Linked DNA regions of Homo sapiens: region 1 is linked to region 2. The links come from fine-mapping of genetic effects on gene expression. A gene starts in region 2. The other region holds a variant in brackets. All regions are shown on one strand. Distances are between the middles of the regions. Region 1 overlaps MECOM (MDS1 and EVI1 complex locus). Region 2 holds the start of MECOM-AS1 (MECOM antisense RNA 1).

What was found. PIP is the estimated chance that this variant, and not a neighbour inherited with it, causes the effect.
Region 1: its variant is the best candidate, but not a certain one, in a credible set for the expression of MECOM-AS1 in stomach (GTEx, PIP 0.82).

The regions. Positions count from the first base shown.
Region 1 is chr3:169,472,671-169,481,185 of GRCh38, reverse strand. The region is part of intron 1 of MECOM (MDS1 and EVI1 complex locus); the gene reads left to right. MECOM-AS1 (MECOM antisense RNA 1) reads right to left here. Exons shown (of 5, transcript NR_134932.1): 5 at 4,134-4,300. Among named protein-coding and RNA genes, the nearest start is that of MECOM-AS1, 29 kb to the right of the region's middle. The variant G/A (reference allele first, on the strand shown) is at 3,625.
Region 2 is chr3:169,444,545-169,453,059 of GRCh38, reverse strand. MECOM-AS1 (MECOM antisense RNA 1) reads right to left here and starts at 5,193. Exons shown (of 5, transcript NR_134932.1): 1 at 5,125-5,193. All of the region lies in intron 1 of MECOM (MDS1 and EVI1 complex locus), which reads left to right.

The DNA of each region.
Region 1 (8,515 bases), 28 kb before region 2:
CGATTAACACATTAGTAGATTTGTGTTCAGCTTAAAAACTTCTTAACTTGTTTTTTTAACCGATGTTTTCTGTCATCCTGGGGTGATGATTTGCTTTTTTGGGGGGGCAGGTGTTATTTATTTTTATAAAGTTTAATTCTTTTTCTGGTTAAAACAGAAATGTACACTCTCTTTTTGTTGACTTGTGAAGTACAGAAACGTGTTTTAAGATTTTGTGCCATGTATTGTTAATGAGGATAGCAAAAACAAAACTCAACAAAACAACAACAAATAACAAACAAGCCCCCCCGCCCCAAGAACTCAGAAACACCAGGAAAAATGGCATCTTTTAATGTGTTGATCCTTGACACTCTGCAGACAGTAGCAGCAAAAAACACACATCCACAAATATGCCCCTTAATCTTCAGAGAGGAGCCTCCTGAAAAGCACAGGCTTCTAGGATGTGGCTCAGAAACAGCTTATCTCCCTTCATCTCCTTTTTGAAGAACAAAAACCACCCACCTCATTGGTTACCAGGTCGCCCTATCATCAACCAACCAGCTTGGACAAACACAGCAGAGAACACTAAAGGATCCTATACTTTGACTAGTGGAAGGAAAAATGGCTGGTGATATAAAAGGCCAACTTATTTACGTAAAGAGGTATTATAAATGGTACGGGCAAAGTGACTAAAGAGATGAGAAAAAAAGTGGGAAAGAGAAGGAGAGGAATGGCAGCCACAGGGGAAGGGGTTGGGGGAGCAGTGGACTGAGAGCAGATGAGAAGGAGGAAGAGCAGTGTAGGGCCAGCGAGCCACCTGTATACACCTTGTAAATCCTTTTGTTCCTACTTCTGGGAAGTACTCCAGTAGTACTTGAAGAACTCAGATTGCAGTGTTGAAGGCAAGCTAGCAGGTAGAGCCCAATGCTTTGAGGTGGAGATTAGGATGGAAGGTATTCATGGGACAGTATATGTGATAAAGAAGCTCTTTCAATTAAATAAAAAGAAGACAGCACTAGCTTGCTTGAAAAAACACAATTATATTTGAATTCTTCACATGTCAATATGTTAGTCTTTGGCAACCTACAGAAAACCATCATCATACTTTTTTTATACCAATAGTGATGACTCCACTTTGACCAAAAGGCGAATCAATGTAGAAAAAAGTCCATTGTCTTCACTGTGGAAAGTACATCGAATCTGGAGTCAGATGGATTAGCATTCAGGCCTCTTGGTAGTTTTCTGATATTGGACAATTTACTTACTCTGTATTTGTTTCAGTTAAAAAATGGGGAATTTGTCTTAACATTTTTGTGAGTATTAAAATAAGAGATTTTAAAGGTGCCTGGCACAGTGCCTGGGACAGAGTATGTGCTCAATTATATTAGTCACGTTCCTGCCTTGTCAAGAGCTTTTCAGGTCCCTATAAGGAAAAGGCCATAAAATTTAGAAGACATTAGGCATGAGTTTTAGTGGTTATATCACCAAATGTGTCTGCTTTCTAAATTTGTGCCTGAGAATCAGGCAAATTTTTTTTTTTTTTTTTTTTTTTTTAGGTAAGAGAAAATCTGAAAATGAGACGTTTCATTCACCTCCATATCTTTACTGCTCAGACACATTGGCTGATATCTGCTTGGCTTTACTTCCAGTGCTTTCTCTAATTGCAGAGGCATGTGAAGGCCGTAATCTTTAGAAGAGCCTTCAAAGCCTTGCATGGTCTGGCCCTGCCTGTCTTTCCAGCCTCACCCTTGTGACCGTCTCCTCCACTGTCTATGCTCCAGCCACACTGGGCTTCATTCTTTCCTCCACCAACCCAAACTTTCTCCTTTCTTAGGGTCTTTGTTACCTCTGCTTGAGATACTGTTCCTAGACGCCTCCCTTTCCTTCTTGTTGCTGCTCATCTCTGTCTCTTGCACACACACACACACACACACACTCACATCCCTATCTATGTGAATTCCTACTTGCTTTATATCTCACCTTAAGTGTCACTTCCTGCCTGAGACCCTAGCGTATGTTAGATTTGCTGGTCAAAAGCTTTTCCAGCATTCCTCCTGCTACTTATCACATTTATGACTAATTAGTTATCTTGGTAGATGTTGGCTAATGTCTGTCTTTCTGGCTACAGTATTAGTAAAGACAGGGATTATGTTTGTCTGAATCACTACTGTGGCCCTCCCATTCAGTTCTATGCCTGGTACATAATAGGTGATCAACAAATATTTTGGTGAATAAATAATGCTAGATGCAGAAACAAATTAGTGACTACATCATTGTAGCATTACAAGATTGTGGAGTCCTACTGTGTTCCACATCAATAACTGCTGGCTCTGTATGGTTAATCTGTGCTCTCTGAATTGTAAAATGACCCAGTATGGTTAAAAATGGGCCTAAAATGACGTAAATGGTTTTTATCACAGAGGAACACCCCCAGATATTTGTTCACAAAGGAAGCTGGTTTAGCCTAGGAATTGGCATCCCTTCTCCTGTATAGTTTTTTTAAGCCATAATACTCAAGTCTATCAAATATCCTAGCACAATACACACAACCTTAGGGAAGTGGCAGGCACCAGTCGCTATTCCCGTGGGTGGTTAAGCCTTTGGTATCTGGGAACAACTGAAGGGTAGTAATTGGTGATACTTATTGTCTGAACATAACTCAATCTTGGCTTAGCTTGGGAAGTATTCGTACCCTCACTTGTGGGGGTGCTTGGCCAAAGGCAGAGGTGTCCCTATAGGTCACTCTGAGGCATTTTTATCTGCACAATAGCTATTAACAAGTAATGGGAAAAGTGGAGATAGGCTGGTTACTCTAGGTGGCTGTAAAACAAGTGTAGATAGGACACAAAGGAGCAGCAGAGTGAGTACACATGACAAAAACCATACCGCATATTGAATTCTGCCTTGACAATATCATTCTTCTACAGTTGTCAATATTAATACTTTTCTATAAGGAAATGGAATGACATTAATGATACATGCAACATCCTTTATGTAAAAATGCCCCAAATCCAAGAGCCTTCCAGAGCACCAGGAAAAGTTTCAGAGCCATTGGATGTCTCTCTTTGTCAGATGCCACGGTGTCAGGCTCCGAGCCATTTGTCATCCCTGAATTTCATTATCTGCTCCTTCCCTGTCTTTCATTCTCAGTTTGCTAGGACATTTGTTCACCGTTGACCTCCCTGACAAATAATACACCTTAATTATGTTGGCAAGAGGGGATATGTCATTCCTGGGCCACTTTAATTGTCTATCCGACAGGCATCCTGCTGTGGCATGTAGCTTCTGTGGTATTTTGACTGCAGTGGTAGGACTATCCTGTGCTTGCGCTTTGTCTAGAGATAGTCTCAACTTTTACAGGTTCTGAAGATAATATGTCTTATTGAAGCCGTGTATCACTTTTGTTTTGCAGTTGCTAAAACAAGCTCTCACATTAATTTGGTGGAAACAGTACAGATTGGCTATCTACAAGGTTTGCCTTGGAAAGCAAAAAAAAAGTCTGCATAAGGATTTAGAATGAAGTAAATACTGAAATAACTACAAAGGTTAAGAAGAAAGGTGTTTGGGCATATCAGGAAGCTCCACAAAGGAAAAACAGCTGACTGCAGCTCCAGGAGCAGGACGCAGAGCCTCTAGTTTAAGTCA[G/A]CTAATCCTTTGCAAGAAACAGAGAAGTGCTCTTGGCCAAAGATTAATCTTACAATTCCATTCTCACATAAAAATCCTGCAGCCTATAACAATCTTGACTTCGGGACTCAGAAAAAAATTCTCTTTTATACCTTGCAAGGATTTGGATCATTGATGGTCTTCATTTTGGCACTTGTTTGTGTTTACTCCAAGATTTTTGTGCAATTCTTTGCCCATGGGAGAATGACGGGGCGCAAAGATAAAAGCTGATGAGGGTCTCAGCAGCACTTCGAAGTTGTGGGAGCCAGTTACCATTTGGAGTTCTCCTTTGACAGGGGTAGATGCCTTAATTTGAAATGCCATTTAACTAGGAATCTACCTAGACCTTTGCAGTGTGAAGACTTCCTATTGCAAATGAAATTGTGTGTGTGTGTATATATATATATATATATATATATATATATATATATATATATACACACACACACACACACACACACATCTTACTTATCCAGACCTCTAGGCACATATTATGTCGCATGTAGGAGTTTATTAACATGAGTATTTCTAAAAAGAAAGCTATTTTATCCATAGCAGCAGGTAAAATTTTAGTTTGTTGGCACAGTCCGTTGTCTCATCTCTCTTTTCTTCTGCCTAACCTGTCTTTGCCGGTTTTCTCATCAGTGGAACATGTTGCCTGTGAGGTTAGGGGAGAAAAAGAAAAAAAAAAAGAACAGCATCAACAAAAAATAGCATCTTCTTCCACTCAACCTGCAAGGCTTCACAAGGGTAATCTCAAAGGTCACCTGGCTCCTGTTTTGGCCAAGAATATGTGGATTAGGGTCACAGGAGGGCGAGATTTTAATTTCACAAAAATATGTAAAGGGAAGGGGGAGAAGGGGGAGAAAAAAAAGATTACTTGCAGAGAGCATGAGTACCAAGGGAGGCATGCTTAGGTGACTAACGACACCTCTATCAGAAGAACAAACTCGATCTGCATCAAGCATTGAGACAGATGAGGCCAATTTCACACAGTAAATTTCTTGGCCATGATTGATGTGCCCCTGCCGCTGAATGTGAGCAAGCTCTCTCCGCACCTGTCAAGCACCGGGCAGACAGGGATCTATCAAAGCGTTATTGATGACTTTACACTGTACTCTGCAAATAAAATGTAATGGGCTAACTGGAACATAGATCTGAGTGATGTTACTTATATATTAAATATGTCACATCTGTAGAACAAATGGTGGTTAGATAAGAGTTATCATCTTCAGGGCTCAATAAATATTTTATCAAGCATAATGGAAATTGTCAAATCAATCTAATTGTGTAATACATTATGAAGACATCAAAATTAAACAAAGCACATATGCTATCATTTCATTTTATTAGTGGGCCACTGTTGTGCCCAGGAGGTCTTGTGGTGGTTGAAGGCTGGCAGAGTTAATACTATATATATGTTTCCCTTTCCTCTCCCTCTGCTGCTTATGGAACTGGCTAGATATTTCATCAAAGTATTAATTTCTCAAATGCAGACAACTTCAAGGCATAATTAGATTAGGGAGAACAAAGCTGCGAAAAGTGGCATCAAGCCACAAATTCACTTTAGCCATATTTAGAGCAAATATCTCTGTGCTTCCATTTCATTTTATTTATCTTTATCTGATTTTATACTGTTGCAATAAAAAAAAACCCAACATGAGCAAGAATTATCTTTGAGCCAGAGACATCCATGCTAGCTCCTAACTAGCAGCAACTGATGTTTCAAAATACCTTTGTCGTTTTTGTTATTGGTGGTTAAAAACCACTTGAGGTTTCCCTCCTCCTCCCCCTTTTTTTTTAATTGGCAAGCTAGGTACTTTACAAAGACTATGGAAAGGATTACAAAATCTGGCAAGACTGGCTTTGGCTTGGTGAATTTTAAATATGCATTTAAGGAATGATTGCGTCTTTCTTTTCTACCCGATTTAAGACAGCTATTAGATTCGGAAAAAAAAAAAACTTCGACTTTTTAGTCACTATTTTTAATGTGCTAAGGAAACATTACCATTTCATCCATGTGTCCATTAAAAGAAAGGGCAGCCCGTATTCCTGGCCTTAGAAATTCTCAGTTTGGCTTGTCACTGTGATCAAATTCAGTCCCAGGGTGCATAAGAGGAAGGTCATGAAACATCCTGTGCCCAGTTTTTCCAGAAGCAAAATGGGAATAACTTAAAAAAACACTTCAACCGTCTTGATAAAGTTGGGCCAGGGGACAAAGTTTGCTGCTTGTCAGGGTTAGAACTAAAATGGTTATATTAGGATAATCATGAAAGATACTTATTTCAATATTAAATGACTTTCAGAATGAAGTGCAACCATTGGCAACAAATAAGAGCACAAATTGTCTTTTTTCCCCTATAGAATTATATGCTATGTTATCATTAAAAGGAATTTCAAGTGATTTGTATGTGCATTTGTTACCAATAAATACATGGACTCTGTTCTGATTGTTTACGTGCTGTGTTAGTAATTCAGACTGTTGGCCTGAGGAGAATACAGTAGGAGTTGTTCAGGCTTTAAGAATCACAAAAACTGAAATTGGAACTCAGCTTGGCCCCTACTAGCAATGAGATCTAGGGTAATACATGTAACTTTATCGAACCTCAGTATTCTATTCTGTAATATGGGATAATAGTATCTACCTACAGATTTTATGAGGTAGGCAGACAGATATCAATATAGATTGATTAGATACCATCATAATGGGTGGTTAAGTACTAGACACTAAGCTAATATATATCAGTTATCTCTTCTCACCTGCAGAATCATTCTGGGGGCAAATATTAATCCACATTGATGACATAGGTTTCAGAGAGCATAAAAAACTCAGAGTTTTTGTATCTTCCAAATGATTTCTCTTCTTTGGTGGAGGATTAGCAGTTATTACACAAAACATGGGCTGCCAACCTCAAACCCTGCTTTTAACACCAAGGTTTCACATAATAGAGTTTTTAGCATTAGGGAAAAAGCAGTTACTTTATATCTAATCATAAATATATATGATTGTAACAATATAATTTATATAATATTGATAAAAATTAAGCTGTTGCAATAAAACTGTCCCATCAACCCAAGGTGGTATATTACCATTCTGTTGACATTCCATTTTCAAGGATATTTTATGTTGGGTTGTAAGTACAGACTGACATCTATATTAATAAACCGTATATTGAAAAAAGGAAAGAATGATAGGGGTGTTGGGTAAGTGGCTTTTTCTAGTATGGAGCATTAGGCTGGAAGGCTGGACTTCAGGAACTGACGTTTACAAAATACCAAAGATAGTAATGAAGTTTGTTGTTGTTTGCTCTCTCGGCTGACTTTAGACAGTTGTCTTCCTAGTGGGATTGCTTGGAAATTATTATTGATGCAGATCCTTCCACAAGGTCTATTTAAACCTCTCCCTTCAATGTGCCACTACAAAAGAAATTCATCTTGTGAATGAGAGGTGGCACGTGGTGACTGACTAAATTGTTTGACATGCTCATTAGCATTCTCAAACCTGGACCATTTCTACCTAAGCTACTGACCCAATCTGTCCTGTTGAGTCGTGCTCATAGGAAAAGGGAGGAAAGATGCGAGCGTATTCTTTCTCTCTGAGAACCTGTCTATAGATTCAATTATCTATCTATCTATCTATCTATAGATATAATGAATACTACATATATATAGTATTTATTCTTCCTTCTCTTTTGCTATATGTGTAATTGGCTTCCCTCTCTTGTACCCAAAACTAATAGTGTCTGGTATTTTGTTTTTGTTTTTGTGTTTTTTCTAAGAGGGAGTCTGGCTCTGTCACCAGGCTGGAGTGCAGTGGAGCAATCTCGGCTCACTACAACCTCTGCCCCCCAGATTCAAGTGATTCTCCTACCTCAGCCTCCTGAGTAGCTGGGACTACAGGTGTGTGCCACCACACCCGGCTAATTTTTGTATTTTTAGTAGAGACAGGGTTTCACTGTGTTGGCCAGGATTGTCTCGATCTCCTGACCTCATGATCCACCCACCTCAGCCTCCCATAGTGCTGGGATTACAGGCATGAGCCACCACGCCCTGCCGTATCTGGTGTTTAAACATATTTCTTCCTTCGCCTAACCTGTAGGACAGCAAGAAAGTAGTGACTTCTTAATGTTCTCAAAATCGTGTTGCTGAATTTCAAGTTTCACAATATTTAGGGATAGTGGTCTCTCTTTTCTCTTTTTTCAGTGGCTGGGAACCTCATATATTCGCTCTTGTGTTTTTGGCTAGCCTGTGGATTAGGATGAAGGCCAGATAAATCAGCAGTTTGTAGATAGGGTGATCATTCTGATCACCAGAGAAGTTTCAAAAGTACAAATTCCTGAATCTACTTCCAGACAGCCTTATTTACCTTAGAGATCTAATGTAGAAATCAGGATTCTGTATTTCTGACAAAGCTTCCAAGATTACTTTTGATTCTCTCACAGGTTGGAACCACTGTGGTGGACCTCCTTTTGGAAACCAGGAGACTGTTGGATGCTAATGACTCCTTCTCTAGGTTTTTCTCTGATTTAAAAATCTTTGACATTTGGCATGGTATCTGGGTGGTGTCTACATATTGATAACTACCAGGTAGGGACAAAGTAGGGGCCTAGTAAATATTTTGATTGATTTTTAGAACATGTGACATATTTGTCTTACCACAATAGTAAGCAGTCATTAAGACCTTGTCTTTGAACTTTATGTCGGTTAAACACATGATTAGGATTTTCTATAAATTGAACAATTTGAAAAAATGAACACTAAGGCTTATATTACTTTCTTTCCCTCCCTCTCTTCTTCCTTCCTTCCTTCCTTCCTTCCCCCTCCCTCCCTTTCTTCCTTTCCTTCCCTTCCCTTTCCTTTCCTCTCCTCTCCT
Region 2 (8,515 bases):
ATCTAAGTTACTATTTCCCATTCCATTCATGTAAGGATTTTATTTGGTGAAATATATTTGTTTGCATTTGAGAAATTTCCCTTAAAAAGCCAGCAGTTAAAGTTCTGTGTATAACTATGCAAGAAGTGATTAGGGAATGAAAGCTATGGAAAAATATGTAGCTGCCATTGCTTTTTCTCATGCCTAGCTTATTGAAAATAATTTTTTGTTATTTTCAAACCTTACAGAAAAATAGAAATATTCAACTCTAATTTTTAGTAGATGATGAAAATAAGGATGATACCCAGGGTTAGCCAAATTAGGTATTCATTCATTCACTCACTCATTCAAGAAATATATGGCAAGTATGTGTGCTCAGCTATTGGTCAATTCCAGGCCTTGTGGGAAACCTGGCCCCTCTGAAGCCGGCGCAGAACTGCATTTTAGTTGTTTGAAACTGTGAGCTACTAGAAAGCAGGGACTTGACATCCATGATACACATCCCCTTTGTGTCTAGTACTGTGTTCCTTTACGTGGTAGATGCTGAGTTTGTATTCCTAGAACTGAATCAACAAATTCCAATACAATGTAAATATCTTCTAAATTCTGACTGACTCATGAAGGAAGATGCATAATATAATTAACAGAAATAATAATATCAACATTGATCCATCATAGATTTATGTAGTGCATTTCAGTTTACCAATGGATTTCCCATATGTTAACTTATTTAATTTTTAAAATGTTAACTTATTTAATTTAAAAATTTTTAACAATCATTTTTGTCCTACAAATAAGGGAAAGGCGTGTGTTTCCTAAGCAGTCTCAAGCTTGACCTCTATCACTTGGCCTTTCAAAGAAATCAGCTTTGCTCTGCCAGTCTACCAAGCTGTAGTTGGGCATCGGCCGTGAGTAGTGATGACCCGGCTTACCAAAGCATCTGAGAATATTGATTGATGTCTATTGGAAGATTTGATCCATTCAAAGTTTTTTTAAAAATCGATGGCTATTATTTGGGAAGGACTACCTTGAGGGATCACATATATAAAAAAGCATTACTAGAGACTAGTATTTTGAGAAGAGGAATTATTTGAACATTTCATCAGATAAACAGACAAGCAGAAGTAAGGAGAAAAACAGTTCCCCATCTTTGTGCTTTAAATTATCAGTTAGCAGTGGGGCTTTATGCCTCAGTTTAAGGCAAACCATGTCTATTTTAAACATGCTCGCAGGATAGCTTTTTTCCACATCTATTATGAAAACATTTTAATGTCTTCTGTAATTCTTATTCATATGTAATTATGAATGTCTCACTAAGCGATAGAAATTTTGTGTAAACTGTATTTTACATAGAAATAAAAATCACAAGAATCATCAATGGTATAATACACTAAAGACATCTCTCTAAAGTGTAGCATACAAAATATAATTTATAACATTGCTCATTGAGACCTAGAATATTTTCCCTCACTATCTGGAACTTCTAAGAAATAGGCATAAGAAAGAATGGGACATTTTTCCACAGTTGATGACATGGATGGTGGAGTACCTGGAGATATATGTAGTGTTAAACAAACAGGTAAACATGTAACAAGCAAACCAAAAACCCAACAGCCAAGCCAGAGCTTTCTATCTACTTTCCCTTCTCTTTATAACCACTGGAACCTCTTCACAGCTAAGATGGTTAATATTTTCATAGTACATATTCCTATTCATTTTTACAAGTAGAGTTCTTTTTATGTATAAGACTTTTCTTTACAGAATACTTTTTAAATGGGAAATAAGATGCTGCGCACTTGTGAATATCACATTTTGCTTTTTTTTTTTTCACCATCTTAAATAAAGTCTAAATGAGAGAGAGACAGAGAGAAGTATTTTCAGTCCAAATACATAGGGCATGAAAATCTCACACACACATGCATAGAACAACTTCAGAGCTTAAATTGTTTTATCCCTGTTGAAGGGCTGTTGTTGAATTATGTGTAGGGTGGAGAAAGATGACTGGATTAAAAAAATGTCCTTTAGCTAACAAAGATCTAGATTGGAATTTAACTTGAACCAGTTTGAGTGATATTCCAGAGGCTTTTATTGCTGGAAATAATATTGAATGGAAAACAGTTAAGCTAAGTGGAAATATTTTATATCATAGGATGCCATATTCTGGATTATAATTATATGGCTTTTGCATTCGGTTCCCATTATGAACTTGTGAAAGATCCTTTTCTTCTTATGCAGAGCCTTGGCCTCATTTGTAATAACAGCTCCTGATGCACAGCTTTTGTGAAAATTTCTGCTTTTACTTTTTTAAGGTAAACTCAGTGGTATGTACGTGTAAGGAAGTAGGGAGATTGGCCACGTTGACTAAATCCATTGTCAGGATCTGTGTGTTTTCACGCTCTCTCTCTGAGGTAAAGAATGAAGGCTCCCTTCAAGAGAACACAGCGTGACTACTCCAACTGTCTTCTCTGGCCTCTTTTTTGTCATCATTTTTTTTTTTTCGTTTTGTCCTGAAGATGTAAGCTGCTGTTGTCTAGAGGGAGTGGAAAAGGTTTTTCTTAGGGATGTTAATTTCAAGGCTGAGTAGTTTCCAGTCACCAGGCCTTGCTGGAAGTTTCCTTCAAGATTTGCTTGGAGGCAGCAGGGGCCTATTTGTCTCACCTGCAAGGAACATGGCCTTAAAAAAAATAACAAGAACTTTTGGAAGCTTTTTTAATTAGCACCTTGGAGTCTTTGGCTTTAGACTGCTGATTTGTTAATTCTTGTGGTGATTTTCTTCCTGGTGCTGTGTGTTTAAAGTACTAAATCGTGAATTTCCCGTACAGTCTTCAAAGCTTTTCACTCAAGTGGCCAAATAGGTTTACGTTAGTGTCTTGAGCATGACACATATTTCAGAAATAATATTTGTTCTGGCATAGCCTAATAACTATAAAATTGAGATGCAAACCAGAAAAAATTTCTTTAAAGTCCGTAATGCCATTTTAGAGGGAAATATTCTTTATTCCCTAGACAGAGTAAGAAGCTGCTCTTGTCCAAATTATGAGTTGTGAAACCTTCAGACATAAAAGAAAGCAAAATTGTTGACATGTTATTGGGACATAACTTTTCTCCCCAGTGTTTCTTTGTTGTAGAGAGAATAAGGAAAAGTAAAACAGCAGCAATCTTTCTACAATATTCTTACAGAGGAAAAAGAATTAGAGGGAATATGCTACCCAAGTTTACACCTGCTTTGTAATTCTTTGGTCTCCAGTTTGACACCATTAAGGAAAGTGAGGATTTCAGCCAATTACAGCTGATGGTTTCATTGTATTTCTTTTTTTCCGATGGTATCACATCCTATATTTCTTTACGTATTGTCTCAGACATACATGCATGTAGTTGGATAATGGGATATTCAACATAGCTTACCGCCACCTCACCAAATTATTAAGCTATTTCAAAACAAGAAATAATGCTGAGGGAAAATTTGTATTAGCTTGATTGATTATCTTATTTTAATCCATATTAAAGCTTTAAGTCTCTAGGCGTGGCTCTTTACTTCTAACACCTCATAAATTATAGCTATAATGAAGCAGTCATTTATCCTGAGCTGATGATAAATGGCTTGCCCTAGGAGGAACTAAAGAATAGGCAAGTAGATCATTTTCATATTTGGTGAAAACAATATTAAGTACCCAGACCTCAGTGATTGCCCTAATAAATGAATAATCTGAGGTGAGGGGCTTGGCAGTCAGTGTAAAAAATAACCTGAGCTTTCTCTGTCATTTGTCAGGCTTTGCTATGACAGCATGCATTATGGGTAAATGAGCAATCAGCAAGAACTATGTTATGGCTGGGATGTTTTTGAGAAATTTATCATATGCATTGCTTAGTACCTTAAGACCTTAAGGCTTAATGGCTATAGTGCATGACTGCAAGTGAGCACAGTTCCTATTTACCATGGTATGCTTCATTTGTGCTCCATCTCTCACCTTAAAGAAAGAAAAGACCTTTCGTGATTGAGCTTCATTTGGCTTTGCTTTCAAAATGTTAAGGTCTTTATATGATGTTCTCTCTGTTGACAGATACTACTCCTGGTAGATTGGCTACAGGAGATTTTGGAGTCGTGATTTCAAATAAAATTTCAGGGTCAAAAATTTATCATGGTATGGAGGTGTCAAAATCTGGATTCCAGTGTACCTGAAGCCAAATGTATTATGGAAAGTGACATTACCTCCTTATAATAGTATTAAATATTTAATGGTACTTAAGAATTAAATGATTTTCCACCCTCCTCAAACCACCGAACAGTTGATCTCTTTCATTTATTACGGAATTGGAAATAATCAAGAGTAGTTGAGATGTGAATGCTTCATTGGAATTATGCAATGTGTTATGACAATGTCTGACTCATTATGGTTTGCTGCCATATGCAGTGAAAAAGGAAATCAGGATGCAAACTCCTCTTCCCAGGCCAGGGGTCTCACATGCACACTCCTGTGGATGCTATTCTAAAATATTTGATTAAAGATAATGTGGCTTTACCAGTACCTCTCTTGCCATAATATCCCAAATTTACAGGTGCCTTTGAAGTTAGATGTACACTGAATTAAAAATCTGGCTTTACCCCTAGTTGGATAAATTTGTTTATTAGTTACTCTGAACATCATTTTACTCCTGTGTAAAATGGTGAAAACACTGTCTTGAAGGATTGTTGTGTGGCACAAATGAGATAATGTATAGAAGATGCTTAGCATGTGATGGGCGACCTATAAATAAATACTAAGTTAGTTCTATATCTTCTTAAAATCCTGGTCAGGCACCTAAGCATTCCCACAACGTATAACACGAGTGGCATTTTACAAGATATGGTAGCAAGGCTAGTTGCTCAGTATATTAGATCAAGGAGCTCATGAGACAAATTCAATTACATGAAAATATTTTTTGAATGTCTACTATAGGTCAGGTTCCAGTGATGACCTAAAGATCACCTCACCATTGGTTGCCATCATCACTATAATAGCTTCTAATTTCTCCCCTCTCCTAGCTCTCATCCATAGCAGTTTCCAGTTGAATTTCCAAACTACAGATCTGATCACACCATGACTCCTAGTTGCCCAGCCATTTAGCACCACAAACAAGGGTTTAAATAATACACTTCTGACTTACCATTTCAGCTTCATTTCTTGCCTTCTCTTTTATGCCTATATTCCAGCTATGCAGAGTTACTCACCAATCTTTCATTTGTAGGTCACATTTGTGCTTTTTCTTTGCCTAGAATGTACTTCCTTCCACTCAACTGTCTTGGCATGGCCAAATCCTTGTTCGAGATGTATTTCAAATTTGAGCTCTGGTGTGTAGCCTTTCCAGTCTTTCCAGGTGGAGATGGTTTTTCTTCCTCTTAGTTGTTTCCTGAATACTTTGTGTGTAATAAACCACTCATCATGTTGTGCTGTAAACATCTGTTTGTGTGCTCTGCTTCCCACTATGGATTCCTTGAAGACAGTGACAGAGTTGACATTTTTACTTCTAGAAATTAACATGGTACCTGGAACACAGTAGACGCTTTATAAAGGTACTTTGTAAACATAAGAATCAATGAGAAAGGTATGATTCTGCCTTTCTTTGGACATCTCAAACTCAGAGTCAGAAAAGTTCTTGGTGGGGGGAGATAGTAGATAACCATCCACCTCTTCTTGTGATCTTAACCTACAAAGCCTCACATCCTGCATTATTCATCTGTTCCCTCCCCCAGTCAACTAAAATTTACAAAATGCCTGCTTTGCCTGGCCACCTTCTAGCTACTGAATGAGAAGGTGCATTTTTATAGGAGAAGATGGAGGTGGAGCAGGAGAACTCTAGGGCATGGGTGGCAGAGGGCACCAATAAGACTTAATTCTTCCACCCTTGGGAATTGTAGACATCTTCACAAGGGGTCAAGAAATTGGGTGGTTCAGAGCAATTTCTTTTACATCTCAAGGATGAGGACGACTTGAACTAATGTAGAATCTTCTAGATTGTAGATAAAATGAAGGAGTTGGATTTCAATATTTTACAATGAGGATCCCTTTTCATAACATAAAAAATTCTTAGACCTGTAAGTATTTATTTGTTGACAAAATTATACTGAAAAAAATAACTGAAAATTCAGTAACTGTTAATTAATTTTCCACTTAGTGAACCACAATGGCATGTGCAGGGAGTGCCTAAAGCTTGGTGCACCCCCTGAACAAGCCATCCTGATAGGGATGAGGGCAGTAGCACTGCATAGTCATTAGGAGCATGGGCTTTTGAATCAGGCAGACTTGGGTTCAAATCTTGGTTCTGACACCAGGTATATGATCATGAGAAGCTCTCTCAGTCTTTATTTCCTTAACTGAAAAAACAGTAATAGTGACCTCACAGTGGGTGCAGGTGTGGGATTTAAGATAATAAAGGTAGATAAAGATAACGCACAACACACATAACTACTACCCACTTAATTATCAGGAAAGGGAGGGTAGCTTAGCAAGTTCTATGATGTAAACTCAGGGCAAGGTGGCTCTGTGGAAGACCAGGCTTATTTGTGTAGCGTGGAGAGTGTCTGTATTAGTTCGGTTTTATGCTGCTGATAAAGACATATCTGAGACTAGGAAGAAAAAAAGGTTTAATTGGACTTACAGTTCCACATGGCTGGGGAAGCCTCAGAATCATGGCAGGGCAAGTGGCAAGAGAAAATGAGGAAGAAGCAAAAGCGGAAACTCCTGATAAACCCATCAGATCTCGTGAGACATAGTCACTATCATGAGAGTAGCAAGGGAAAGACTGGCCCCCATGATTCAATTACCTCCCCCTGGTTCCCTCCCACAACACGTGGGAATTCTAAGAGATACAATTCAAGTTGAGAGTTGGGTGGGGACACAGCCAAACCATATCATTCCACCCATGGCCCCTCCAAATCTCATGTCCTCACATTTCAAAACCAATCATGCCTTCTCAATGGTCCCCCAATGTCTTAACTAATTTCAGCATTAACTCAAAAGTCCACAGTCCAAAGTCTCATCTGAAACAAGGCAACTCCCTTCCACCTATGAGCCTGTAAAATCAAAAACAACCTAGTTGCTTCCTAGCTACAATGGGGGTACAGGTATTAGGTAAATACAGCCATTCCAAATGGGAGAAACTGGCCAAAACAAAGGGGTTACAGGGCCCATGCAAGTCCAAAATCCAGTGGGGTAGTCAAATTTAAAGCTCCAAAATGATCTCCTTTGAATCCAGGTCTCACATCCAGGTTACACTGATGCAAGAGGGGGTTCCCATGGTCTTGGGCAGCTCTGCCCCTGTGGCTTTGCAGGGTAGAGCCTCTCTCTTGACTGCTTTTATGGGCTGGCACTGATTGTCTGCAGCTTTTCCAGGTGCACAGGGCAAGCTGTCGGTGGATCTACCATTCTGGGGTCTGGAGGATGGTGGTCCCCTTCTCACAGCTCCACTAGAAAGTGTCCCGGTAGGGACTCTGTGTGGGGGCTGTGACCCCACATTTCCCTACTGCACTGCCCTGGCAGAGGTTCTCCATGAGGGCCCCGTCCCTGCAGCAAACTTTTGCCTGGGCATCCAGGCATTTCCATACGTCTTCTAAAATCTAGGCAGAGGTTCCCAAACCTCAATTCGTAACTTCTGTGTACTCACAGGCTCAATGCCACTTGGAAGCTGCCAAGATTTGGGGCTTCCACCCTCTGAAGCCACAGCCCAAGCTCTATGTTTGTTCCTTTCAGCCATGGCTGGAGTGGCTTGGACACAGGGCACCAAATTCCTAGACTACAAACAGCATGGGGACCCTGGGCCCACCCACAAAACCACTTTTTCCTCCTGAGCCTCCAGGCCTGTGATGGGAGGGGCTGCCATGAAGGTCTCTGACATGGCCTGGTTACATTTTCCCCATGGTCTTCCTACTTATGCAAATTTCTGCAGTTGGCTTCAGTTTCTCCTCAAAAAATGGGTTTTTCTTTTCTACTGCATCATCAGGCTGCAAATTTTCTGAACTTTTATGCTCTGTTTACCTTTTAAAATGGAATGCTTTTAACAGTACCCAAGTCACCTCTTGAATGCTTTTCTGCTTAGAAATTTCTTCTGCCAGATACCCTAAATCATCTCTCTCAAGTTCAAAGTTCCACAGATCTCTAGGGCAGGGGCAAAATGCCTCCAGTCTCTTTGCTAAAACATAGTAAGAGTCACCTTTGCTCCAGTTTCCAACAAGTTCCTCATCTCCATCTGAGACCACCTCAGTCTGGATCTTACTGTTCATATCACTATCAGCATTTTTATCAAAGCCATTCAACAAGTCTCTAAGAGGTTCCAAGCTTTCCCACATTGTCCTGTCTTCTTCTGAGCCCTCCAAACTGTTCCAATCTCTGCCTGTTACCCAGTTCCAAAGTCATCGGGTATCTTTTCAGCAACACCCCACTCTACTGGTACCAATTTACTTGTTTTCATGCTGCTGATAAAGACATACCCGAGACTGGGAAGAAAAAAAGGTTTAATTGAGCTTACAGTTCCACATGACTGGGGAGACCTCAGAATCATG